Linked DNA regions of Homo sapiens. The protein of the gene in region 3 interacts with the protein of the main gene of each other region in a biochemical or structural test. Each region holds a gene or a part of one and is shown on either strand. Other genes may lie near its edges.

Region 1 (7,025 bases), on a different chromosome or scaffold from region 3:
GCCACACCCAGCTAATCTTTCATATTTTTTGTAGAGAAAGGGTTTTCACTGTGTTGGCCAGGCTGGTCTCAAACTCCTGGGCTCAAGTGATCCTCCCTCCTTGGCCTCCCACAGTCCTGGAATTACAGGCATGAGCCACCGCACCGCCCTCTTTATCCTTAAGTAACATTGATATGGAGATAAAAAACATGGGTTCTTGGCCAGGCGTGGTGGCTCACACCTGTAATCCCAGCACTTTGAGAGGTTGAGGCAGGCGAATCACTTGAGGTCAGGAGGTTGAGACCAGCTTGGCCAACATGGCAAAATCTCGTCTCTGCTAAAAATGCAAAAATTAGCCAGGTGTGGTGGTACCTGCGACTGTAGTCCCAGCTACTCCGGAGGATGAGGTGGGAGGATCGCTTGAACCAGGGAAGCAGAGGTTACAGTGAGCTGAGATTGCACCACTGCATGTCAGCCTGGGTGACAGAGCAAGACCCTGTCTGAAAAAAAAAAAAAAAGCATGGGTTCTGGAGTTGGAGGTGATCAGTGCTGGGTGTATTAATTTCCCATGGCTGCAATAACAAATTATGACAGATTTTTGGTTTAAGACAACAGGAATGGATTCTCTCTCAGTTCATGGTCAGAAGTCTGAAATCATGGTACTGGCAGGGCCACAATCCCTGGAGAGGTTCTACAGGAAAATCCTTGCATCTTCCAGATTGCAGTGGATCCAGCTGTTGCTTGATTTGCAGCAGCGAAACCCAAGTCCCTGCGTCTGTCTTCACTCCTGTGTCTTGTGTCCTCTTTTTTCCTTTTTTTTTTAAAGTGAGATGGAGTCTCGCCGTGTTATAGGCTGGTCTCGAACTCCTAGGCTCAAGTGATCCTCCCACCTCAGCTGTTCTTTTCTTTTCTTTTTTTTTTTGAGACGGAGTCTGGCTCTGTCACCCAGGCTGAAGTGCAATTGCGCGATCTCCGCTTACTGCAAGCTCTGCCTCCTGGGTTCAGGCCATTCTCCTGCCTCAGCCTCCCGGGTAGCTGGGACTACAGGCGCCCGCCACCACGCCCGGCTAATTCTTTGTATTTTTAGTAGAGACGGGGTTTCACCGTGTTAGCCAGGATGGTCTCCATCTCCTGACCTCGTGATCTGCCCACCTTGGCCTCCCAAAGTGCTGGGATTACAGGCTTGAGCCACCGTGCCCGGCCCCAGCTGTTCTTTTCTTATAAGGACACTGGGCATTGGATTTAGGGCCCACTTTATATCTAGGATGATCTCATCTCAAGATCCTTATCTGCAAAGACCCTATTTCCTAATAAGGTCACCTTCACAGATTCCAGGGGTTACAACTTGGATGTCTGTCTTTTTTTTTTTTTTGAGATGGAATTTTGCCCAGGCTGGAGTGCAATGGCGTGATCTCGGCTCACTGCAACCTCTGCCTCCCGGGTTCGAGCGATTCGCCTGCTTTGGCCTCCCAAAGTCCTGGGATTACAGGGATTAGAGGCATGTGCCACCATGCCCGGTTAATTTTTTTTGTATTTTTAGTAGAGATGGGGTTTCTCCGTGTTGGTCAGGCTGGTCTCGAACTCCTGACCTCAGGTGATCCGCCCACCTTGGCCTCCTAAAGTGCTGGGATTACAGGTGTGAGCCACCGCCACCAGCCTCACATATGGCTAATTTTTAAGTTTCTTCTAGCGATGCGGTCTCACTATTTTGCCCAGGCTGGTCTTGAACTCCTGGGCTCAAGCAGTCCTCCTGCCTTGGCCTCCCAAAGTGCTAGGATTACAGACGTGAGCCACTGCGCCCGGCCAATAAATATTTATGTCCATGTTACTGACAGCAGTGTTCGTTGGTGTGGCATGGGAATGAGCTAGCTTTTCTAGGAGGAGCCCCCTATGCTCCAGGGCTGCCCCGCTGTCTTGGCTCACCGGCCATGGGAGGGAGTCCTGGGCCATGATCTGTACCTAACATAGGAGGCCCAGGAGAGGCACGTGGGGAGGACTTCCAGCCCTGTTCCTTGACGTCTGCACCCTCCAGGGGAAGGATGACAGCTGCAGAAGGGCCTGTCTCTGTCACTCTGTAGTGAACAGTTACTTCTTGCCATCTGAAGTCACCCTGGCCTACGTCCATGAGATTGGCCAAATGGCAACTACCAACACCAGGCCATTTTCCCTGTGCAGAGGGGGAGGCCCTTTGGCGTGGGCTTCCTGGGCTTGAGGAAGCTTTGGCATGGCCTCTGGAGTTCCTGGGCATAGGCTGCCCTCCCTTGGAAAGGAGGCAGTTTCTCAGGGAGGGGTGCCGGGAAAGAGAACAGAACAAACTCTCACTTCCCCAGCCCTGTGGCGCTCTTTCTGGAAATGACTGTGTCACTTTTCTTTCTTGGTCAGCACGAGTCAGTGTGGCCAGTGCTTTAGACTCTCCCATCCCCTTGGCTCAGAAGCTTACACAGCAGCATGGGCTCCGTCAGGGGCTAAACTTCAGTTTGTGAGGGGCATGCCATGGGGTGGAAAGTTCAGAGAAAAACCCTTTGTCCAAAGAAGGTGAAGAATGGCCTGCTGTCACCGAACCAGGGGCCCTTGTGACTTCCTTTGGTTACACTCCTGGGATCCCCCTGACAGCTGGGGCAGGGGTATAGAAGAGCTTGTTATGTGCCCCATCTTTAGGACATCTCGGTGTCAAGCTGGAGTGACAACAGGGAAAGTTAGTAACCCCAGAAAGGCATTTGTGTTTCAGCGGTGCCTGCGTGTGGCTAATGGATACCGTCATTTATTGAGCATTTATCCCGTACCAGACTGTGCATAAACTTGTGTTGACTCAAAATGCTTGACCTTGGGGGCAGCTAGGGAAAGGGCAGTGATATAAATTAGGCCTATGGGCCACATTGAGCCTGTGGCCTATTTTTATCTGTGTTTGTATTTTATTAGTGAGACAGAGTCTCACTGTGTTGCCCAGGCTGGAGTGCAATGGCATGGTCTTGGCTCACTGTAACCTCCACCTCCCAGGTTCAAGTGATTCTCATGCCTCACCCTCCTGAGTAGCTGGGATTACAGGCCTGTGCCACCACCCTGGCTAATTTTTGTATTTTTAGTAGAGACAGGGTTTCACCATCTTGGCCAGGCTGGCCTCGAACTCCTGACCTCAAATAATCTGCCTGCCTCAGCCTCCCAAAATGCTGGGATTACAGGTGCGAGCCACCGCACCCAGCCTGTGTTTTATTATTTATTTATTTTGAGATGGAATCTCGCTCTGTTGCCCAGGCTGGAATGCAGTGGCGCAATCTCGGCTCACTGCAACCTCTGCCTCCCAGGTTCAAGCGATTCTCCTGTCTCAGCCTCCCGAGTAGCTGGGATTACAGGCACATGCCGCCATGCCCAGCTAATTTTTTGTATTTTAGTAGCTCACTGCAGCCTCTAACTCCTGGGCTCAAGTGATCCTCTGGCCTCATCCTCCCAAGTAGCTGGGACTACAAGCACATGTCACCACCCTTGGCTAATTTAAGCAATTTTTTTAGAGACAGAGTCTTGCTGTGTTTCCCAGGCTGGCCCCAAACCCCTGGCCTCAAACCATCCTCCTCCTGCCTGAGCCTCAGAAGTAGCTGGGATTATAGTCACGAACCGCTGGGCCCGGTGTGGCCTATTTTTGTACAGACAAAGCTAAGAAAGGCTTTTACAGTTTTTGAGAGATTGATTAGGGAAAAAAACTAAAACCCAATCCACAAACAACAATAATCAGTTGAGACCACAGTGTCCTGCAAAACCTGAAATATTTACTCACTGGCCCGAGGCAGGGGAAGCTTGTAGACCCCTGGGATAAATGAATGAGGCAGGCAGGAGTTGGGGTCTGTGGGGAGTTTGGCCCCAGCCAAAAGAGAAACCAAAAAATCCTCAGGCCGAATAGAGCATACTTCTGAATTGTGTGAGCCCCTTGTGCCAATTGTGGCGCTTACTGTATGTTACCACTTACTCTGAAAAGAGTTCTGTGAGGTCAGAGATACCAACCCCAATTTACTGGTGGAAAAACAGAAATGAAAGAACTTGACTGGCCAAAGTGATGTGGTTGGCAGGCAGCAGAGATGGCTTTGGCATTCTGGGTGACTGGATGCCCACCTTAAATGCATATATAAGTGGTTCAGTGACATTTATCTGTTCATCACAAAGACCCAAAGTAGCAGAGGCTTAATTAAACACGATGGCATTTTATTTTTTGTGCTCTAATGCTAAAGTGTGAAGATTGTCAGGTGCCAAAGTCTCCTGGGCTCTTGGAAGTTCCCAGATCCAGGTCCTCCCCCCGGCTTTTTTTTTTTTTTTGAGATGGTGTCTCGCTCTGTTGCCCAGGGGCTGCAGTGCAGTGGTGTGATCTCAGCTCACTGCATCCTCTGCCTCCCGGGTTCAAGCGATTCTCCTGCCTCAGCCTCCCAAGTATCTGGGACTACAGGCGTGTGCCACCACGGCTGGCTAATTTTTGTATTTTTAGTAGAGACGGGGTATCGCCACGTTGGCCAGGCTGTTCTCAAACTCCTGACCTCAGGTGATCCACCCGCCTCGGCCTCCCAAAGTGCTGGGATTACAGGCCACTGCCCCAGGCTGATCCTCCACCATTCTTAAGGTGAGGTCTTGTCCTCAGGTTTCAGCATGACTGCTGGAGTCCCGCCATTACACCCTGGCTTCCAGACAGCAGGACAGAGGAAGGGACAAAGGAGAAAGGGTGCAAAGGTCACATCCAGGTGTTTGTTAAGAAAGGTTCCCGGTAGCTGATGCAAGGTGCTTCAGCTTTCATTTTGTTGGCTAGAATGTAGTCACATGATCACTGCCAGCTGCAAGGGATGCTGGGAAATGTAGTTTTCAATCTGAGCGGCCATGTGCTCAGCTGAATTTAGGGTTCCAGTTTCCATGGACAAAGAGAGAACATACAGGGAGTCACCTTGGCCACAGTGGGTAGGATCTGGACCTGGCCAGAATGTTGGGAAGGACGTTTCTGGGTTATGGAGAGGTGCTCCAGTGGGCCAGGGCTGGAGACAGCCACCTGGCTTGGAGCACAGGGTCCCCTGTGAGGAGTGGAGGGGCTAAAAGTGGAAACAGGGCTGGGTTGGAATCGAGGATTTTTTTGGTTTTTTTGGAGATGAATTCTCGCCCTGTCACCCAGGCTGGAGCACAGTGGCTCAATGTCATCTCACTGCAACCTCTAGCCTCCCAGGTTCAAGTCATTCTCCTGCATCAGACTCCCAAGTAGCTAGGATTATAAGTGCGTGCAACCACACCCAGATAATTTTTGTATTTTTAGTAGATACGGGGGTCTCACCCTTTTGGCCAGGCTGGTCTTGAACTCCTGACCTCAAGTGATCCATCTGCCTTGGCCTCCCAAAGTCCTAGGATTACCGGCATGAGTCACCGCACCCAGCCTCAGGTGAAATCTTAATGGAAGGTGTCCAGTGCTGTGAGCAGCTCCTGGTCACCAAGCACTGGCCCTCTGTGTAGGGGGTCTGGATGAGATGGGTGGGCAAGGCCTTTCAACAGAAGCTGGAGTGTGGTGTGAACTTGCTAATGACTTTGAGATGCCAAGCCTCACACACCTCAGACCAGGTTGGATTTAGCAGGTGGAGAGGCTCAGGAAGACCTCTGTGGCAGGTGTGTCTCCTTTCTGCGGAAACCTGCTGCTTCTAAGGTCTGCTGGAGAACCTGGGAGGTGGTGAGTTTGCAAAGACATCCAGGGAAGCAGCCACTTAAGCGAGGGCAGGATGGAGGGGCCCACCTGGGCCACACCTGGCTGCTTGAGGTGGCGAGTTGAGGCTGGGAGGGGTTTCCATCAGTTCCATCAGCTCAGAGCTAGGATTTTTTTTTCTTCTTTTTTTGAGACAGGGTCTTGCTGTGTCACCCAGGCTGGAGTGCAGTGACACGATCATAGCTCATTGCAGCCTTGAACACCCAGGCTCAAGGGATTCTCCCTCCCTCAGCCTCTCTACAGGCTGGGACCACAGGCGCACATCACCATGCCTGGCTAATTTTTTTTTTTTTTTTTTTTTGTAGAGACAGGGTCTCACTATGTTGCTCAGGCGGATGTGGAACTCCTGGGCTCAAGCGATTCTCCTACCTTGGCCCCCAAAGTGCTGGGATTACAGGTGTGAGTCATGGCAGCCACGGCTCCAGAGCTCGGGTTCTTAATCTGGTCTGTGGATGGCCCCTGGGGGCGGTCCCATGAGCCCCTCACAATTGGACACAGTTTTGCAAAGGGGTAAAAGGACAAGAATCGGTAGCTGTGACTGTGGATGAGCCTCTGAGCTTCACTTTCCCTCCCTGAAAGGGGGTGACAGTGGCACCTCCCTGGAGGTTTTCGTGGAGGGGAGGAAACACATGTAAAATACTTCACCCCAGTTGGGCACAGAGGCTCATGCCTGTAATCCCAGGTTTTGGGAGGCCGAGGCAGCAGGGCGGTTTGAGTCCAGGAATTTACAACCAGCCCGGGAAACACAGTGAAACTGTATCTCTTAAAAAATAATTTAAAAAAATTAGCCGGCATGGTGGCACATGCCTCTAGTCCCAGCTATTCCAGAGGCTGAGGCGGGAGGATTGCTTGAGCCCAGAAGCTTGAGGCTACATTGAGCCATAATCGTACCACTGCACTCCATCCCGGGAAACAGGGCAAGACCTTGTCTCTAAAAAAAAATGCTTCTTGCTTGATGACTTGTGATATATGAAAAGGAAGAAAGAAAAGAAAAGCTTTGCCCTGTGTGCCTGGCCCGAAGTAAGTGCTCCATAAATTGGCCGTGGTGTAGCTGTGGATTCTCTGCACATTTTTCTGTGCAGAACCTCCCCTGATTTCGGTCAGCTTCTCAGAAGGATCTGTGACTGAAAAAGGGTACCAGTTCCTGGAGGACAGCACCTGATTGGGGAGTGGAGTCTGCCCTGGCTGGTAAGGGATTGGGGGCTCTCTGCGCAGGGCCAGGACATCTCTCCAGGGACAGGCGAGAAGCTTTGAAAGGGCAGGAAGGAGAGGGCAGCAAGGTCAGATGCCGTGAGAGGTCAGAGTGAGAGCCAAGGGGCGGTCACTGGATTTC
Region 2 (7,250 bases), on a different chromosome or scaffold from region 3:
CCTGGAATAATATATTGGCAAATCATGTATCTGATAAGAGACTCGGATATAGACTATATAAATAAATAACTCTCACAACTCAACAATAGAAAGAAAAATAATCCAATTTAAAAACAGGGAAAGGATTTAAGCAGACTTTCTTCAAAAAAGATAAATGGCCAATGAACACATGAAAAGATGCTCAACGGGATAGTCACCAAGGCAATGCAAATCAAAACCATGAGACACCGGCTCGGGCAACATAGTGAGATCCCATCTCTACAAAAGAATACAAAAATTAGCTGGTGTGGTGGCATGCACCTGTTGTCCCAGCCACTTGGGAGGCTGAGGTGGGAGGATTGCTTTAGCCCAGGAATTCGAGGCTGCAGTGAACTATGATTGCACCACTGCACTCCAGCCTGGGTGAGAGAGCAATACCTTGTCTCAAAACAAACAAACAAACAAAACCCCATGAGATATCACTTCATACCCTTTAGGTTGGCTAAAATAAAAAAGACTATAACAAGTGTTGACAAGGATGTGGAAAAACTGGAACCCTGACACATTGCTGGTGGGATTGTAAAATGGTGTGCCCACTTTGGAAAACAGACTGGCAGTTCCTCAAAAACACCGAGTTACCTTATGATCCTGCAGTTCTGTCCCTAGGTATATACTCAAGAGAAATAAAAATATATGTCCACAAGTAACCTTGTACATGAATGCTCACAGCAGCATTATTCATAATAGCCCATAAAAGTAGAAACAACCTAAATATTCATCAATTCATGGGATGAATAAACAAAATGTGGTATATGTGTATAATGGAATATTGACCATAAAAAGGAATGAAATATTAATATAAGCTATAACATGGATGAGCCTCACAAATACTATGCTAAGTGAAAGAAGAAAGTCACAAAGGACTTCATATTCTATGATTCTATTTATATGAATTGTCCAGAATAGGTAAATCTATAGAGAAAGAATATCTCTATCTAGAGTTGGTGGAATGACTGTTAATGGAGAGGGGGTTCCTTTTTGGAGTGATGAAAATGTTCTAAGGGTAGATTTGGTGATGATGGCACAACTCTGTCAATAAACTAAAACTCATTGAACTGTACATTTTATTTATTTATTTTTGAGATGGAGTCTTGCTCTGGGGCTGAAGTGCAGTGGCGCAATCTCGGCTTGTAACCTCTGCCTCCCAGGGTCAAGCGATTCTACTGCCTCAGCCCCCCGAGTAGCTGAGATTACAGGCACGTGCCACCACGCCCAGCTAATTTTTGTATTTCTTAGTAGAGATGGAGTTTCACCATGTTGGCCAGGCTGGTCTTGAACTCCCGGCCTCAAGTGATCCACCTGCCTCGGCCTCCCAAAGTGCTGGGATTACAGGCGTGAGCTGCCATACCCGGCCTGAATTGTACATTTTACTTCTATGGTATTTACATTTTAGATTATATTAATTATTCCTCAATAAAGCTGTGATTTTAAAAAGCAGGCTAGGCGCAGTGGCTGGTGCCTATAATCCCAGCACTTTGGAAAGCTGAGGCAGGAGGATCACTTGAGCCCAGGAGTTTCAGACTAGTCTAGGCAACATGTCAAGACACAGTCTCTACTAAACAATTAAAATTAAAAAAAAAAATTAGCCAGGCATGGTGGTGTGCACCTGTAGTCCCAGCTACTTGGGAGCCTGGGGTGGGAGGATTCCTTGAGCCCGGGAAGTCGAGGCTGAAGTGAGCCGTGATTGCGCCACAGCACTCCAGCCTGGGCGACACAGCAACACCCTGTCTCATGGAAGAAAGAAAGAAAAGAAAGGAAGAAAGAAAAAAAAAAAGCAGATTGGAACTCTGGAATTAACAAGAAGTAGGACGCACGGAGCACTTCCGCCTGAGTGGAGACTGTGGATCCGGGTCAACCTGACTACCTAAATCACAGGCCAATAAATGGTCTTTCAGTGGTCAGTCCCTGTAAGATCCGTGGCTCTCAGCTTCTTATCTTAGGGGCTGTGGAGGAAGGACATGATTATGTTGATTTAAGCGCTGAATATTTTCCCTTGTGATACCCATCCTCGCAAAACTTTGCTTCAACCACAAACGAGGACCTTCTGTACCAGAGGGGCAATAACCACAATGAAGCTAGGAAGAAATGCAGAGCACCCCAGCATACAGTCCATAAGCTTCCTGAAGTGGGGGGCCTCAGGCATCGCTGCCTCCCCAAAGAGGATCAGGCCCAGAACAGTATGCTCCAGAAATAAGACTGGAAAAAGGGAAAGAGGGGCCTCAAGTCCAGGAGACCAGCGGCTTTCTGAACGCGCACCTGCCAACCCACTTTGGACAGGTCACGATGGACAGCGTGGCAGGAAAAGAAAAGGTCACTGTCTACCCAACACATGAGAAACTGTTTCTCGTGCCTCACGTCCCCACTCCGTCCCCACCCATGTTGTCTGAGTCCCTCGGTGTCAGAAACACTGCTAAGAAATTTAAGAAATTCTGTTAATGAGTTTAAGAAATGTTTTTAATGATTAAAAGTCAGTGACTTGTGAATAACCATGTAACTTACAAACGCAAGGAACTCTGAAAGTGTGCAGCACCACCGATCAGAAGAGAAAACCAAGGGACCCGAAATATGCTTTAATTAAATTTTCTTTTAAAATGTCACTGGAAAGAACATCTTGGGAAGACGGCCTGGCCGATCGCCGTGTGAAGGGCAAGCCACTCTGGCCGAGAGGGAGCCCCACACCTCGGTCTCCCCAGACCGGCCCTGGCCGGGGGCATCCCCCTAAACTTCGGATCCCTCCTCGGAAATGGGACCCTCTCTGGGCCGCCTCCCAGCGGTGGTGGCGAGGAGCAAACGACACCAGGTAGCCTGCCGCGGGGCAGAGAGTGGACGCGGGAAAGCCGGTGGCTCCCGCCGTGGGCCCTACTGTGCGCGGGCGGCGGCCGAGCCCGGGCCGCTCCCTCCCAGTCGCGCGCCGCCGCCCCCGCCCCCGCCCCCGCCCCCGCCCCCACCCCCACCCCCACCCCCACCCCCAGCCGGCGCCCGCGCCCGCCCCCGCGCCGGGCCCGGCTCGGCCCGACCCGGCTCCGCCGCGGGCAGGCGGGGCCCAGCGCACTCGGAGCCCGAGCCCGAGCCGCAGCCGCCGCCTGGGGCGCTTGGGTCGGCCTCGAGGACACCGGAGAGGGGCGCCACGCCGCCGTGGCCGCAGGTCAGAGTACGGGTGCCCGCGGCGCTCGGGAACCGGCTGCTGGCTGGGCGGGGAGTGCTCAGGGAGGGGGCGCGGAGGGCTGGGGCCGAGGGTCTGGGGGCTAGGGCCGAGGAAACGGGAACTGACGGGGTCCCAGACGGATGAGAGCTGGGGAGAAGGGGGTCTCGGCTGAGGGGTCCGGGGCTGAGGCAGGGTCATGGTCCGGCAGGACCCGGACTGACGGGTCGCGGGCGGGCGGCTCACGGGTGACCGGGTGAAGGGGTCTTGGGCTGAGGGCACCCGGGCTGAGGGTCGCGTCTACCGGAGCGCGCACTAGGGGCGGAGGGCGCGGGCACAGAGAGCCGCGGCCGGTGCCGACTCGAGTGGACGCGAGCCGGTGCGTCCCGGCTTCCAGGACAGCCCCCCTCGGGAGAGCGCCGGGTGGGCGCGGAGCCGGGGACACGGGGACCTCCGCGTCCCCGGCGGAGGTGCGCAAGCGTCGGGAGCCGCTCCGGGGGAACTTTGGAGCAGGGTGTCTGGACCCGGGGAAGCGAAGATCCGCGTGCGTCCGTCCTGAGGCCGCGCGGCACCCCTGCTGAGGAGGAGGTCCCGTTCGCTGTCCAGAGCCCAGGGGCGACCGCCGCTTGGGGACCGGGGGACCGTTCAGCGAGGGGCGCGCTTGTAGCTGGCCAGGCCCTGTGCCCTGACGCGTTGTGCTGGCCCTACGCCCGGCGGAGGGGCTGGGGACGGGGACTGGGTGCCTCCGTGCCTCCGCGGATGGAGCGCGCAGCCAGGACCCCCAGCCGCACCCCGGGGGGCTGGAAAGGCGAAGTCGCTGCTTTGTGGGCTCCTGCAAGTGCCAGGCGCTGACCACTCCTCCTGGGAGCCTAACTGAGGGGGGTAGAGGCAGCAGAGGTTAACAGAAATCTCAGGTCCCTTGGTGGAAGGTGGGTGTGTAGTCGTGGTACTTTACGCCTCGGTGTTTAGGGAGGAGCCTAAGGTAAGGAGTCAGAAACGGGGAGTAACCGAGCTGCGGCTTTTATATAAGGTCAGTGGTAGGTAAGGAAGGGGCCTTAACCTCTGCTGGTGACCAGAAGCCTGCATTTCTGCATTCTGCTTAATTCCCTTTCCTTAGGTGAGTTGGCTCACTCTCATTGCATTTTGTTGGAATGTGTTGGTGATAGGTCCGAAATTTGCAAAATTATTGTATTATCCTTATATCATTTTTTTTTGCAGTGCTCTTGTTTTATAAGAAGAATCCAATTCACTTGGGTCATAGGCTAACGGTTGTAAAAATAGTGTCATTGTTATAAAAGAAATCAAGTCAAAAATAGTCGTCTGCCATGAAGAAACTAAAATTTTTCTTCTTTTCCTTGCAAGATTAGGGACAAAATGTAAAGTTTATTTGTGTAAATTATCATTTGGATATAAAACCAGACAATGATAAACTGAGTTGTATAATACCTATTCCTGGAAAACCTCTGATTTTGAAGTACATTATTTTAACCCCAACTGTTTCTGTCATTCGTGAGACAAATTGTTAACTGGATTTATTAAGAGAACAATGAATAACTTAACTCTTTAAAAGGACCTGGGCAAATCTTCGACAGGTTTCAGGTATTTTATGGCAGTCTTTCTGTCTATTGCTAAGTGATCGATTGCTGACTGAGAACAGAACCAACTGATGGTGCTAGATGATTTAGAAAACCTTTCTGGTATAGGGACTGGCATGGACATTCACTGTGGCTTTTCTCTTAAAGAAATACCTTTCACTCCTAGGGGAGTTTGACAGAAGACACTCATAGATGCTACCAGTTAGCATTTGGAGTAATATATCAAAACATTCTGTTCAAGTTTTAAAGTAAGTTTTGTGTAGTATATTTTCAATCAGATTCACTTTGGAATCAAATACACTTTATTTGATTCCAAATAAAGTGTATTTGAATATTCACTTTAATATACGAAACTTTAAAGGTAATGTCTCAGCCAAAAAGTGAAGTGTATTACAAAACTGTCCATTTTTGTCTTCTTGTGTACTTCACATAATTTTTCTCCCTGATTTAAATTATATGATATTTGATAGTTAACTTGCTAATAATTATGTCTTAAGAGATCTTTGAATCAACTGGTGGCCATCTCAGTCTTTTAAAACTCACTTGAAGGAAAAGAGAAACACTAATGATGGTTTTTTTTAAAATCAAAAACTTTTTTCATATTTACAAGTTTGTTTCTAGTTCTTAAACAATAACTGCTGTAAAACCATGGCATCAGTGAGGTATAAAGTTTTGTAGAATCCCAGGCTGAAGACTTTTTGGATGTCGTTTTCTCATTTCTTTACATTAAAAAGAATATAATTTCTTTTTAAAATTAAAACTAAAATGTCCACCGGCCTCATATTCTTTATTGAACTTAAGTGCTTTGAAAATATTTTTGCGATTGATATTTTTAATGATAAAATATAATATTTTCTTTGAAGGACTAGTTTCCTAAATGTTCATTTTTTTGTATGTTTCAGAACTACTTTTAAAAAAATTCTAGATTATGCTTTAAATTGCAATATTTCTAAATTCCTATGACATTTAAAATGTGTACAAGAGAAAAGGTGTGACATGAGGAATATGAATTAGAAGTGGATTACTAATGGTCGTAGTGAATTGTTTTTAATCAGTGTTATATAAATATAAACAAATACTTTTTTCTTCTGTAATTTTCTGACAATAAGGATGTTAGCCACTAACCTTAATTATCAAGATAATTATGTGCATGAAAGCTGTGTAAAAGGCACAACCGTGGAACATATACAAGTATTAATAATACATTTCATTTAGTTTTCAGGTTATAAAATCGTTATTAATAACAAGAGGCTTTCATGAAGTAGGAAAATATGTTAAAATGACATTTTCTGAATGTTTCACACATTCTGGCCCACACTTTCACTTCTTTCCTAGCATCTATATATTCCCAATGCATAGGACAGAGTTGGTCATTCTAATTGTGGGTGTCTTTCTGCTGGATTCGTTGTCACTTGGACTTGGAAATACAGTATGTCATTAGGTGTGGCAAATGTACTGGAAGAAGTTTTTGGTCTCATAGGATTCCACTAAATAAATATTAGCTGTAGAGGATTTTTAAAAACTCACTAATAGAGAAAACTTGGTGAAGTCACTAGTGTGTAAGCGTAAACATATGCACCCCCCACAACTGAATTTCTAATTTGCTTATTTTTCCTGGTAGATCTCCACTTTGCTTACTCTCTCTTAATATCCCAAAGCAACAAAAAGCGCAGTGATTTTAATTGCTTACAAAGGTCCTTTGAAACGGATCTAATTTGACTCCACAAAAGAATAGTAAGAGTTGTGAACAACCATCTTGCAAGTGTAGATATCCCCAGCGTATCAACTTCAGTTAGTTTCATAGCGTTCTAAATCAAAAATTTAGATTTAAGATTATTTGAAATCTTCTTGGAAGTTCTTACTTACTGTTTGCGTTTTCTCAAAATACAGAGGTAGATTGGGGGAGTAATATAGTATATGTTTTAAAGCTGTTATTTAACTAAAATGTCATGTTTTAAATTTTATTTAATGCACTTAAAGTAGGTTCTTGGGATAAAATCTATTCAGATGCAATAGGCCATGTTTTGGGGAAAACTTTTGTAGATGTTTAGATAATATCTGTCATCAATAATAGTATATGTTTAAATTATTTTGTAAAAACAGATTTACATATTTTTAAAATTTCTCTTCAACAATAAGTACACATCAATATTTTAATGCCGAGAATTTCATTCAGAGTATGACTGTTTACATTTTCAACTGTTTCAATTATTATGGCTTAGGCAAGTACCTTATCCTTTCTCTCAATTTTGTCATCTTTGAAACGGAGAAAGTGTTGCAGTTATTATTGCTTGCTCTTTTGCTATGATTTTAAGGCTTTATGAGCAAACCCATGTACTTTAAATGATGTGACCATGACCCTGAATTTAATTGAGCTGATATTCTGAAAAGAACCTTCATGAATATCTATGTCATAGCTAACTCTTTTACCAATGTTAATAGTTCACTGTAGTTCAAACCTCAATAACTTTGAG
Region 3 (7,025 bases):
TACTTAACTGCCTAAAGCACAATTCTGCCCCATCCATTAAATGGGTAAAATGGAAAGTCTAAATTCCTGTATTATAAGCCCTCCATGATTGGCCCCCTTGCTCACCTCTACAGTCAAGTTTTTGGCTATTCTACCAGTCAGACAGCACTCACAGGTTCCCAGAACAGGATATACCTGGCCTCACACAGTCTCCTTTCTAGCCTGGGCTCATTTTTACTAATCCTATCTCTATCTGTGAGATCCCAAAATCAGACACAATTCCTCAAAGACAGCCACCAGGATAACTACTGGGTTAGGTTCTCCTGTTCCTCCCACTATATACGTACTTCCCAAATACAATGCTGATCACACCAGACTCCGTGAATGCCAGTCTTCTTCCCTTATCTATAAACTCCAGGAAGGAAAGAAGGAACAATGTACAGAGGATAAGTTCCTGGCATACAGAAAATGTTGGCCTAATACAGAATAACTGCCATCTTGTCAACTCTTCTACGCCAGTATTCTTCAAATTATGGCTCAAAAGCCAACAGTGGGTCATAAAAATCAATATAGTAGGCTGCAACCAGTACTAAAAAAAAAAAAAAAAAGAAAAGAAAAAAAAGCAACAGAAAATATGAGAGTATATTACAAGTAATAAGGGTAAGTATTCTTGTGCATTCTTTGAAACAGAGTCTCTAGTGCTACAAGTTAAAGGTAGTTCTTCCTTAAGTGTTGTAAAAAAATTCTTTGGAGCACTGCACTGCTACTTTTCTTCTTCCTCCTTTATAAGAAAGTTTCTTAGAGGCAGGCATAGTGGCTCACATCTGCAATCCCAGCTACTCAGGAGGCCGAAGCAGGAGGATAACTTCAGCCTGGGCAACACAGCAAGACTCCATCTCAAGAAAATTTATTCTTTAAGACCCAGGTGGCTGGGCACGGTGGCTTACCCCTGTAATCCCAGCACTTTGGGAGGCCGAGAAGGGTAGATTATGAAGTCAGCAGATCGAGACCATCCTGCCTAACATGGTGAAACCCCATCTCTACTAAAAATACAAAAAATTAGCCGGGCATGGTGGCGGGTGCCTGTAGTCCCAGCCACTAGGGAGGCTGAGGCAGGAGAATGGCATGAACCCAGGAGGCGGAGCTGGCAGTGAGCCGAGATCGTGTCACTGCACTCTAGCCTGGGTGACAGAGCTAGACTCCGTCTCAAAAAAAAAAAAAAAGATCCATGTAAGAAAATGAAAAATAGAAAAAATTATGCTTAATTGGCCAGGCACTGTGGCTCTCGCCTCTAATACCAGCACTTTGGGAGGCCGAGGTGGGCAGACTGAGGTCAGGAGTTCGAGACCAGCCTGGCCAACACGGTGAAACCCTATCTCTACTAAAAATACAAACATTAGCCAGGCATGGTAGCAGGTGCCTGTAATCCCAGCTACTTGGGAGGTTGAGGCAGGAGAATAGCTTGAACCCAGGAGATGGAGGCTACAGTGAGCCAGGATTGCACCACTGCACTCCTGTCTAGGAAACAGAGTGAGACTCTGTGTCTAAAAAGAAGAAAGAATATGCTTAACACAGTTCTTTATCAAGAAGCCATTCTTAAACATTTCTAACAAGAACAATGTTTTCCATTTTCTCATTATGCCTTAACTATCTGCTGATTTTCATTTCTATTACTTACGTATACAAGACATCTTACATGATAGGATATATAAGATGTCTTGTATACGTGACATGATAATATATATGATATATATATACGTGACATGATACAAGATGTCATGATACTATATATATATGGTTGTCCCTTGGTATCTGCTGGGAATTGGTTCCAGAATCCACTCCCTCCACTGCAGATACCAAAATCTGAGGATGCTCCAGTCCCTGATATAAAGGGGACATGTAGTATTTGCATATAACCTACACACACCCACCCATATACTTTGAATTCTTTCTGGATTATTTACAATACCTAATGCAGTGTAAATGCAACATAAATAGTTGGTGCACTGTATTGTTTAGGGAATAATGACAAGAAAATAAAGTCTGTACATGTCCAGTACAGATGCAACCATGGATTTTTTTCCCCTAAATATTTTCAATCTGTGGCTGACTCCACAAACACGGAACCCTCAGATACGGAAGGCTAACTGTACAGTATTTTTCCATTTTAAGCTCTGTTCCTATATTCTTATACTCCTAGAAAACAACATTTGGATAGATGACATAAGGCTTACTCTTAAGACTCCTCTATGAACATCATGCACTTGGCTTTCTCTTTATCCAGTCTATCTATACAGGAGTTCATCCTTACCCCGTTTCATTTTCTGCCATTTCAAACACCTGTGGTACAAAAATATTACAAAGAAAACTGCAGAAATAAACACTAATTTTTGTTGTTTTAGAAACAGAGTCTTGCTATGTCACCTAGGCTGGAGTGTACAGTGGTGTCATCATAGCTCACTGTAACCTCAAAACTCCTGGGCTCAAGAGATCCTCACACCTTAAGCCTCCCAAGAAGCTAGGACTACAGATGCATGCCACCATGCCTTGCTGACTTTTTAAATTTTTTTTCTAGAGATGGTGGGGGGATGGGGGGTCCCACTACATTGCCCAGGCTGGTCTTGAATGCCTGGCCTCAAGCAATCCTCCTGCCTCAATCTCCCAAAGTGCCAGGATTACAGGCGTGAGCCACAACAATGTTTTAAACTGTGCGCCATTCTGAGTAGCCTGATGAAATCTCACCTGACCGGGTAGTGAATCTCCCCTCCGTCTAATGTATTCACCTGTATAAACTACCAGCCATTTGTCACTTAGTAGCCATCTCAGTTATCAGATTGTCAGACTGACTATGGGGCAGGGCAATGCTTGAGTTTTAAGTAACCCTTATTTTACTTAATGACAGTCCCTAAGTCCAAAAGTAGCAATGACAGCTATATGGATATGCCAAAGAGAAGCTGTAAATTGCTTGAAGGTGAAAGTTCTTGACTTAATAAGGAATGAAAAAAAATTGTATGCGGAGGTTACAAAGATCAAATCTATACATGAAATTGTGAAGGAAAAAAATTCGTGATAGTTTTGCTGTTGTACCTCAAACTGCAAACATCACAGCCACAGTGCATGACAAGTGATTAGTTAAGATGGAAAAGGCATTAAATTTGTGTGTGGAAGACACGGACAGAAACGTGTTCTGACTGATGACAATTATATTCACTACTATACAGGGTTTCAGGTATCCACTGGAGATCTTGGAATGTATCCCGCAAGGATAAGGGGGGACTACTGTATATCCACGAAAAACAAAAACAGGCCGGGCGCGGTGGCTCATGCCTGTAATCCCAACATTTTGGGAGGCCGAGGTGGGTGGATCACGAGGTCAGGACTCCCTGTCTCTACTAAAAATACAAAAATTAGCCGGGCATGGTGCTGCGCAGCTGTAGTCCTAGCTACTCCGGAGGCTGAGCAGGAGAATCGCTTGAAGCCGGGAGACGGAGGTTGTCATAGGCCGAGATCACGCCACTGTACTCCAGCTTGGGCAACAGAGCAAGACTTCGTTGCAAATCAAAAAAACAAAAACAACCCCCAAACCATCTACCACTGCTTTCCTTCTGATATATTTAGCAGTAAAGTTAAAAACAGTTAACAATGAACACATACTACACAGAAGCAAGCATAGTCCTAAGCATCTGATAAAGAGAATTCTCATTTATTCCTAACCACAATCCTGTAAGGTGGGTAAGTAAGGTGGATTCCTATAAGGTGCGCACCCACCTTACAGGGCTGTGGTTAGGAATAAATGTGAGGAGGTTGAGCCAGGTTAAGTATTTGGCCCAAAGTTCACAGTTAATAAATACAAGCCTGGGCTATGAACTCTAGCAGTCTGACTCCAATACTCATTCTCTTAGCTACTCTCTTACTCTTTTCAGTACTTTTAGTTTTACTCTCTCTCTCTCAACAAAATTACTTCTAGGGCCAGGTGCTATGGCTCACGCCTGTAATCCCAGCACTTTGGGAGGCTGAGGTGGGCGGATCACGAGGTCAGTGTATGGAGACCATCCTTGCTAACACGGTGAAACCCCGTCTCTACTAAAAATACAAAAAATTAGCCGGGTGTGGTGGCGGGCGCCTGTAGTCCCAGCTACTCGGGAGGCTGAGGCAGGAGAATGGCTTGAACCCGGGAGGCGGAGCTTGCAGTGACCCGAGATCGCGCCACTGCACTCCAGCCTGGGCGACAGAGCGAGACTCCGTCTCAAAAAAAACAATCACTTCTAATTGCTTTGGGACATTTATAAAAAAGAATCTAGATCTAAAAACAAATTATATCCAAATTGCTCAGAAGAGGCTTAACACCTCAATTATTATTTATCCTCTTAAGCGCTTCTGGGAAAGTGAGCAGTAATTTCCCATGAAAATTTCAAAATGAAACTACCGTCTATTAAGCGAAAAAAAATCACCTGCGAAGTTCAATGTTAAAAAATTTTTTAGCAGGGAGGGGAGAGGGATAGCATTAGGAGATATACCTAATGCTAAATGACGAGTTAATGGGTGCAGCACACCAACATGGCACATGTATACATATGTGACAAACCTGCACGTTGTGCACATGTATCCTAAAACTTAAAAGTATTAAAAAAAAAAAAAATTTTTAGCTGGGCGCGGTGGCTCACGCCTGTAATCCCAGCACTTTGGGAGGCAGAGATGGGAGGTTCACAAGGTCAGGAGATCGAGACCATCATGGCCAACATGGTGAAACCCCGTCTCTACTAAAAATACAAAAAATTAGCTGGGCATGGTGGCAGGCGCCTGTAGTCCCAGCTACAAAGCGAGACTCTGCCTCAAAAAAAAAAGAAAAATTTTAGACTTGGTATAATTGGTTTCATTTGCCCATTAATTTTACTGCTTGCCTCACTTAAAAAAATATTCAACTTTAGAAATCTTCAAAGAAGGAAACCCTAAAATCTGGACAAACATAAAACTAGCATCTTTTACTTTTCCATTAATTGCTGGGTATATGAATTGGCAGAATAACTCTCAAATTGTTTTTGTAAATATACCAGGAAAAAGTATTTTACACTCCCACTTGTATCTGCAACACTCTTCCTACTCTTTTTCTCTTTCCTATTTACCACTTAATGTCCCTACAAATACCACTTTGCATTAATTTTCAACTGTTTCCATTTTTTTGTTTTTATTAAATAAAGAAGAGAGAGAAAAGCAAAGAAAAACACAAAATAATGCCAAAAGGCCACCAAGGCAGAAACCCTTTCCTCCCTCCTCCCTATTATCCATTCACTGGACATGCCAATACAATTCCAACCTCTGCTATAGAAGATGAACTCCTGCTGGAATAAGACCCCCATATTGTAACGCATTCAAGATTTACAACTTAAAAGTCACTTTATCTCACTATCAACCAGAGACAACCTTCTTGAAGTCCTATAAATGAACTTACAAGGCCTTGAGAATAATTGCCAGAAAAACTTAAAGCACTTTAGTAAAATGTTTTGCAATTTAATACTGAGGAGAGAAATGCCTCACTAAATCAGGAGCTATATCTGCAAGACTCCAGAAGCAAACTCTTATGTAAACATTCAAGCCAAAATAAAATAAAACATAGCATATCACAAGTTACAGAGCTGGAAAATAAATGGTCTTGATCAAAATGTTTTGGTTAGGATGACGAACCACTAACACAATGGCATTTTAAGAAAATAGAGCTGACAGCCGGGCATGGTGGCTCACGCCTGTATTCCCAGCACTTTGGGAGGCTGAGGCGGGTGGATCACCTGAGGTCAGGAGTTCGAGACCAGCCTGGCCAAAATGGTGAAATACTGTCTCCACTAAAAAATACAAAACTTAGCTGGGCATGGTTGTGGACACCTGCAATCCCAGCTACTGAGGAGGGTGAAGCAGAGAATCGCTTGAACCTGGGAGGTTGAGATTGCAGTGAGCCAAGATCGAGCTACTGCACTCCAGCCTGGGCAACGAGAGCAAACCTCTGTCTCAAAAAAAAAAAAAAAAAAAAAAAGTAGAGCTGACATTTTAAAAAGCCTTACCACTTCTCCACTGTGTACATTAATCTACTGGTCAAAAAGCAGGTATACTTTACACACTATCTGCCCTGTGTCTTTGAAATGGGGGAAAAACTCAAAAAACAAAAAAGCACAAAACCCAGGGCCACAAAACTGTACCAAGACCAGAAGGATCTTTACCCTACTTAATTATATGCCAGATCCTAAAATCCTATCTTTCCAGGTGCTTTTTAAGTGCATACGGCATTAAGCGTTTACCAAGCAGTGACAAAACGTGTTCACTGAGTAATGAAGACAACAGATGACCCTCATCATTTCCATCACTCAAGATGATCAGAAACAGCTCCAAAAGATATTTCCAGGATTTGCCTAACATTAACTTTTCCAGTCTTTTGGTCATTTTTACAAAAAAAGTTTACAAGTGGCTTTCATAATCTTTTTTTTTTGGAGGGAGAGGGAGAACAAAATGTCATTTCTCAAATGATTTGTTTTACCCTAACCATACCAAATGAAATAAAAATTTCAATGGATCAAATGCAAATACTGAAACAGGAACATAAAGGTGTGAAGGCTACAAATAAGTCTTCTCTTCCCCATCCCAACACGTAAAAGTTGAGTTTAACCTAAGTTATTTGAATCAACCTGGAAATTTTTTAGGAGAATATCTGAGTATTAAACAGCAATTCAGAGGTTGAGATTTAAGTAATAATTTGATTTGTAACACTTTAGCATGTCATCCCATTGGATTCCAGTTTTCTTTCCTTTAAAGCTGACATTAGAACGCTCTTGGTGGATATATTTACATCACGAAATTTGCAAGCCTAAATCACTTTTTTTAAAAAAGTTTTAGGTGCTAGAATTTCGGGCTTATTTCAACCAGTTCTAGACAAAAACCATAATATCAAGAAATAATTTTCTTTCACATTTATAAAATACCCAAGTGACAACTCAAAAATCAAAAGTTACAAGTTTGAAACTTAAAAGTTTTAAGAGGTGATGTGCCTCCAATAAAAGTTA
Region 4 (7,104 bases), on a different chromosome or scaffold from region 3:
GCTTCGGCCTCCCCAGTATCTAGGACTACAGGTATGCACCTCCACACCCAGCTCATTTTCTAATTTTATTTTGTTGAGACAGGATCTCAAGATGTTGCCCAGGTTGGTCTCGAATTCCTGGGCTCAAGTGATCCTCCCACTTCAACCTCCCAAAGTTCTGGGACTACAGGTGTGAGCCACTGCACCTGGCCTACCTCCAGCCTTGAGAGTGACCTTCTCCAGAAAGTCTTCCTTGGCCCCTCATTGGGGTTCCCATAGTGCCAATGCCATATTTTATTCATGCATTCACCCTTCAATTAGTAAAAGTCTAATACCTGCCAGGACTTGTTTCAGACAGTGAATGAACAACCAGGCTAGGTCTCTGCTCTCATGGAGCTGTCATTCTAATGGGGAAGGCAGTAAACTGTCAATTTACCATGCAGCATGTCAGGTAGGAAGATACTCTAAGATGAAACATAAAGCAGGGCAAGGAAACAAGAGAGATATTGCTATTTGGGTAGGACAGTCAGGGAGAGTTTGTTGAGGTGATATTTGAGCAGAGACATGAAGAAATGAGAATATGGGCCAGTAGGACGTCTGGGAAGACAGTTCCAGGTGGCAACTTTCTTTGTCAGCAGCAGGGGTCTTGTATTACTCAGTTTATTTACCACTGTTATTAGTCAAATTGTGTCCCCGCAAAAATATCTTGGAGATATGTTGGAGTTCTAACCTCCAGAATATGACCTTCTTTGGAGTCAGGAGCTTATAGAGGTGATCAAGTTAACATGAGGCCAGTAGGAGAAGCCCTAATCCAAAAGGACTAGAGTCCTTGTCAAAAGGGGAACTTTGGACACAGAGATACACATACAGGGGGGCGGGGGGTGGAAAACGTCACATGAAGATGAAGGTGGGGATCAGTGTGATGCATCTACAAGTCAAGGGACACCAAAGATTGCCGGGAAACCACCAAAAGCCAGGAAAGAGACACGGAATAGATTCTCTCTCACGGTCTTCAGAACCAACCCTGCCAACAACTTGGCCTTGTACCTCTAGCCTCCAGAACTGTGAGACAATAATGTTTTGTTGTTTAAAGCTTGATCAGCCTTAAGTTTGTATTAGACTGGTGCAAAAGTAATTACAGTTTTCGCCATTGCTTTCAATGGCAAAAATCACAATTACTTTTGCACCAACCTAAATAGTACTGTGTTATGGCAGCTCTGGGAAATGAATACAACCATTCAGTGCTGTGAGGGCCACAGACAGATCACTTGCTCGCTCACCCAGGTTCACGGGATAAACCCTGGTTATACGGAACTTCTGGGAGCCCTGGGTTACTGTAAGTGCCCCCTAACTGGACTCCCTGTTTCCTGTCTTACTTTCTCTAACCATTCTCCACAGTACTGCCCTGATCTTTCTAAAATCCAAATCTTTCCTATCTCATGGCTTCACAAGCTTTTACCTGCCTCCCAATGTCTTTGGGATACAGCAAAATTTCTCAGCTTGAGGCCACAATGCCCTTGGCATCCGGCCCCAGCATATTTCTCCAACCTTATTTCTCTCATCTTTGCATTCACTCCCTAGCCATACATTTTCTACCCCACTCCTAATGGGACCAAACTTCCATTCATCCTGAGGCCTCCACTTAGTCACCATCTCCACCGGAAAGCCTTCCCAAAGCACCCAGGAGGGGGGTAGGTGTCCCTCCTATGTGCTCTCCAAAGCCCTTTCCTTCAATGCCTTTGTGGCATTTATCACAGTGTGTTCAAGGCCTGTTTGTCAGTTTTCTCCCTGTGACCATGAGTTCCTATCTTGTTTGTATCTCCAGGCACCAAGAAAGCACTTGGCACTTGGAGGACATTCAGTGGACGGATGAGAATAAATGAACAAAGCATGCCATGTTCCAACCAGCTGGTCCCAGAACTATTTTGTTCTCCTTTAAGGGATGGGGGATGGGCAGGTGACCTTTCCAGGGATTTCCCAATAGTAGGTAGAACCACTGGAGCTGGATGGAGCTCCACCTTTCCTTAGTGGTTGCAAGAGGAATTTAGATTAGACATTCAAAAGCTGTTTCTTGTGTCGAAAGACACTTGCAGTACAAAGAAGGGAAAGTAAACAATCCCGCGATTTTTCAGGTTGGGTTTTACCAATATTTTAGAATCTGTTTTTTTATAGGAAGTGGCCCCTTCAGGTATCCAAGCCTCTGATACGGTAAACTGCATGTCCTGACCTACAGGTAAAGGTGGTGGGAGGTTAGGAGAATAGGGAATTGTTGCAACTAACAATGCAATGTGTCATGTGCCCGTATCTCTAAAAAGTAAATATTTTTGAGGTTTAAAAATTATTTGCCTGCACGGTTTGCCGGAGAGCCTGGAAGAGGAAAGAAGACAAGACACAAAGTAACAACATTTACAAAAATATGCCTGACTAGGAAAAGACAGAGGGGTCATAGACGAAAATAATCAGGATTGGGTCTCTTTTGCAAATTCCTGAACGGGGAAATGTATCAGAATTTCCAGTCCTCAAGAAACAGGGCCTTTAAAAGTCTTGTGTGCAAGAAGGGGGAAAAAGACGAGGGGGGGGCGGGGAGGCGGACTCGCTCTTCGCAGCAGGAAGTCTTCAATGGCTATCGAGTTATGAAGAAACAACTGCCCAGAAGTCCTTATTCGGAGCGCTAAACTCGATTTTACCACATAAAGAGCAATGTAAAAGCTCAGAACAGCCCCATCATGGTGTTGGGGAAACAACTCGGCTTCCCCATGTGAGAAAGCCAGAGAGCTCCGACTTGGTAGTAGCCCAGACCTGTGTTAGGGGTTTTATTTGCAAGTCAATGAACCAAACGGGCGACCAGGCTCGTTGTGCCGCGTTGTGGAAGCAAGGTTATTATTATCGCCCATTGCCCCACTGAACAATTTCACTGAAAAGGAAGAGTCCCAGCCGTGTGTGTGCGCGTGGTGCCATACGGGACGTGCAGCTACGTGCCCACCTCCAGAACGACTTTATTTACAAAGCGATTACCACGTTATCTATTTGTTTTCCTTTTCCAGCAAGAGCAGCCTTACTCAGCCCTCAAATTTCTTAATTACAAACCCGTTTGCTTCTAAATCAACCCCAAACCGTCAGGCAGAGCCCGGAGGGAGGCTCTGCAAGTTTGTACACACCCCCACCTCCCGGATCCAGGGCAACAGCAGAAGCAAGTAACTGTGTATGTGCAAAAAGGTGGATCTGGGGACGAGGATCGCTGAGTTTGTTTACAGAGCAGAGACGCCTCAGCTCGGATGCCAAAGCTACCAAGAGCTGCAAACGCAAACTTAGCAGAAGCACACGTACCCCGGGAGCGGCAGGCGGGCCCGAAAGCGCGGACTGGAATTCCAGGGCGCGGGAGCGGGGGTGGCCGGGCCCTCGAGCGCGCTCCGTCCACCTGCAGCGGCTGCCCCTCCCCGCCCCCAGCTCCTGTCCTTGAAAGGAGTGGAGGAAAAAAATGCATCTACAAGCGGTGATCTAGAGTAGGTCTACCCACTGCCCGTATGAAAACACAAAGGCACAGCCTAGGAAGGCGCGCTCAGGAAAGGGCGCATTATTTGTCCGGGTCTTTAAAACCCAACTCGAGGAAGCACAGCCATTCTTCGCTGCCTGTGGAAGCTTTTGCAAAACCGGGGAGGCACAAGGGCACTCTGGAGGGCGGGGGGCGCTGGGCGAGTCCCCTTTTCCCGTAGAGAGCGGGGCAGATCGCTAGGTGAACCGAGTGAGAAAGCTGGGGGTGGGGTAGATCCAGCCTGAGGGGGGCGGTGAGCTCTCCTCGTGGCTATCCCGGCAGGCTCTACCTTCGGGCGGGGCGGCAGGGGAGGATTTTCCCCCTGCCTCGGGGGTGGCTGAGCCAACCTCGCGTTTCTGGGCCGGGAAGAAACCAGAGTCGGGGGGCGACGGGGCGACTGGGCGGCCCCCGGGCCCCGCAGCCTCTGCAGCACGTGCCGCGGGCGGCGGGGACGCGGCTCCGGGACCCGGTCCAGGGTGTTCGCGGTGTTCCGGAATCCGCGTCTTGGCGCCGCCCGCCCTGGAGGCTCTCGCTCCGCCTTTCCGAAATGCCTATATTAACTGTGGCCAAAGCCCTAAGAAACACAGCTCATTGTTGGCAGCTGCCGGGCGGTCCTGCCGAGCTGTGAGGGCAACGGAGGGGAAATAAAAGGGAACGGCTCCGAATCTGCCCCAGCGGCCGCTGCGAGACCTCGGCGCCGACATCGCGACAGCGAAGCGCTTTGCACGCCAGGAAGGTCCCCTCTATGTGCTGCTGAGCCGGTCCTGGACGCGACGAGCCCGCCCTCGGTCTTCGGAGCAGAAATCGCAAAAACGGAAGGTAAGCGCGACGGGCGAAGCTGGCTGGGGCTCTTGCCAGCCCAGTCCTCCGAGGGCAGGGTTTGCCCGGAGGAAGAGCGTGAGGCGAAGCTGGGGAATAACAACAGGATGTGCAACAACAGGATGAGGAGGGCTGATTTAATGCCTGAAGTTCGCAGCAGGGCTACGGGGCACTTCCTTTATTAGGCCACTTCGGGGAGCAAAGGGGGTGTGGGCTCGGGTCCCCCCGCCCGATCGCAGGGGAAGGGGCTGTTTGTGCAGCGTCCGGCTGTGTTATGAGTGGTAGCTCTTCCGTGGTGGCTAGCCCGGGTGCACAGGCTGTTAGTGGGATCTTGGGGGTGGTGGTTCGCAGCCGACGTGCGCCCGGGAATCCTGGGGGGCAGAGGCGAGCAAAAGTGGGGTGCGCTGTGGTGGGCGACACGTGTGGCGCGGGTCTCATTATCTGCCCTTTTCACTTCCAGGACTGGAAATGGCAGACCATATGATGGCCATGAACCACGGGCGCTTCCCCGACGGCACCAATGGGCTGCACCATCACCCTGCCCACCGCATGGGCATGGGGCAGTTCCCGAGCCCCCATCACCACCAGCAGCAGCAGCCCCAGCACGCCTTCAACGCCCTAATGGGCGAGCACATACACTACGGCGCGGGCAACATGAATGCCACGAGCGGCATCAGGCATGCGATGGGGCCGGGGACTGTGAACGGAGGGCACCCCCCGAGCGCGCTGGCCCCCGCGGCCAGGTTTAACAACTCCCAGTTCATGGGTCCCCCGGTGGCCAGCCAGGGAGGCTCCCTGCCGGCCAGCATGCAGCTGCAGAAGCTCAACAACCAGTATTTCAACCATCACCCCTACCCCCACAACCACTACATGCCGGATTTGCACCCTGCTGCAGGCCACCAGATGAACGGGACAAACCAGCACTTCCGAGATTGCAACCCCAAGCACAGCGGCGGCAGCAGCACCCCCGGCGGCTCGGGCGGCAGCAGCACCCCCGGCGGCTCTGGCAGCAGCTCGGGCGGCGGCGCGGGCAGCAGCAACAGCGGCGGCGGCAGCGGCAGCGGCAACATGCCCGCCTCCGTGGCCCACGTCCCCGCTGCAATGCTGCCGCCCAATGTCATAGACACTGATTTCATCGACGAGGAAGTTCTTATGTCCTTGGTGATAGAAATGGGTTTGGACCGCATCAAGGAGCTGCCCGAACTCTGGCTGGGGCAAAACGAGTTTGATTTTATGACGGACTTCGTGTGCAAACAGCAGCCCAGCAGAGTGAGCTGTTGACTCGATCGAAACCCCGGCGAAAGAAATCAAACCCCCAACTTCTTCGGCGTGAATTAAAAGAAACATTCCCTTAGACACAGTATCTCACTTTTCAGATCTTGAAAGGTTTGAGAACTTGGAAACAAAGTAAACTATAAACTTGTACAAATTGGTTTTAAAAAAAATTGCTGCCACTTTTTTTTCCTGTTTTTGTTTCGTTTTTGTAGCCTTGACATTCACCCACCTCCCTTATGTAGTTGAAATATCTAGCTAACTTGGTCTTTTTCGTTGTTTGTTTTTACTCCTTTCCCTCACTTTCTCCAGTGCTCAACTGTTAGATATTAATCTTGGCAAACTGCTTAATCTTGTGGATTTTGTAGATGGTTTCAAATGACTGAACTGCATTCAGATTTACGAGTGAAAGGAAAAATTGCATTAGTTGGTTGCATGAACTTCGAAGGGCAGATATTACTGCACAAACTGCCATCTCGCTTCATTTTTTTAACTATGCATTTGAGTACAGACTAATTTTTAAAATATGCTAAACTGGAAGATTAAACAGATGTGGGCCAAACTGTTCTGGATCAGGAAAGTCATACTGTTCACTTTCAAGTTGGCTGTCCCCCCCGCCGCCCCCCCCACCCCCATATGTACAGATGATAATAGGGTGTGGAATGTCGTCAGTGGCAAACATTTCACAGATTTTTATTTTGTTTCTGTCTTCAACATTTTTGACACTGTGCTAATAGTTATATTCAGTACATGAAAAGATACTACTGTGTTGAAAGCTTTTTAGGAAATTTTGACAGTATTTTTGTACAAAACATTTTTTTGAAAAAATACTTGTTAATTTATTCTATTTTAATTTGCCAATGTCAATAAAAAGTTAAGAAATAACTTGTTTTCTAGAAGTCATTTGGGGGTGGTTGTTCCCTTTGGTGGCTTTTTTCCCCCCGTCTTTGAGTTGAACACTATTGATGAGAGTAAGCATTCCAAAGGATAAATTACAGGACACTAAAACAGGTCATGATGAGCTTAAGCGGAGAGCAGGATTTAACATAATTGGCATAATGCTTCATTGTTATCATTGTAACATGCCTCTTGGTGTGCTTTAATCAAAAGCTGCAAAGTTGTCACTGCTTTTTTTTTTTTCTTAATTGCCATCATATCAAGTGTACTCCAGAGTTAGAAAGGTTTGCAATACTCAACATTATCTTTTTCAATGGGCAGGAGGCAAAAAAAATCAAGTGTTTCTGTTTATACCTGATTCAACTACTTAAATAGAGGTAGATTGGAATAATACACTGATTGATTGATGGGTGGCATTAAATATAAATCTACCTTTATCTCCAGTGATGAGAGTTTTATTTCTCAGCAAAAGTGCCAAGGATAGGTACATATTTTCTAGCGTAATCTCTGAAACAGTGTCTGACTGGTTTATAGTTCTGAGAAAGATGAGGCAGAATTCCACTTTGAGGCTTTTGTCCTATAATATTTAAAATGTACTCAGGTTG

What was found.
Region 1: the proteins of EP300 (region 3) and CARM1 form a complex in vitro, tested with the Homo sapiens proteins (5 studies listed by BioGRID, with this or other methods).
Region 2: the proteins of EP300 (region 3) and PPARG form a complex in vitro, tested with the Homo sapiens proteins (6 studies listed by BioGRID, with this or other methods).
Region 4: the proteins of EP300 (region 3) and CITED2 form a complex in vitro, tested with the Homo sapiens proteins (5 studies listed by BioGRID).

The regions. Positions count from the first base shown.
Region 1 is NC_000019.10:10,874,542-10,881,566, forward strand, and holds part of CARM1 (histone-arginine methyltransferase CARM1), read left to right. Parts: intron 1-7,025. UniProt on the Homo sapiens protein: Methylates (mono- and asymmetric dimethylation) the guanidino nitrogens of arginyl residues in several proteins involved in DNA packaging, transcription regulation, pre-mRNA splicing, and mRNA stability.
Region 2 is NC_000003.12:12,284,837-12,292,086, forward strand, and holds the start of PPARG (peroxisome proliferator-activated receptor gamma), read left to right. Parts: upstream 1-4,233; 5' UTR 4,234-4,298; intron 4,299-7,250. UniProt on the Homo sapiens protein: Nuclear receptor that binds peroxisome proliferators such as hypolipidemic drugs and fatty acids.
Region 3 is NC_000022.11:41,095,592-41,102,616, reverse strand, and holds part of EP300 (histone acetyltransferase p300), read right to left. Parts: intron 1-7,025. UniProt on the Homo sapiens protein: Functions as a histone acetyltransferase and regulates transcription via chromatin remodeling. Acetylates all four core histones in nucleosomes. Histone acetylation gives an epigenetic tag for transcriptional activation.
Region 4 is NC_000006.12:139,371,639-139,378,742, reverse strand, and holds CITED2 (cbp/p300-interacting transactivator 2), read left to right. Parts: upstream 1-4,094; 5' UTR 4,095-4,330; intron 4,331-4,380; exon of another isoform or gene 4,381-4,479; intron 4,480-4,529; exon of another isoform or gene 4,530-4,604; coding exon of another isoform or gene 4,605-4,611; intron 4,612-4,790; coding exon of another isoform or gene 4,791-4,798; coding exon 4,799-5,611; 3' UTR 5,612-6,936; downstream 6,937-7,104. UniProt on the Homo sapiens protein: Transcriptional coactivator of the p300/CBP-mediated transcription complex. Acts as a bridge, linking TFAP2 transcription factors and the p300/CBP transcriptional coactivator complex in order to stimulate TFAP2-mediated transcriptional activation.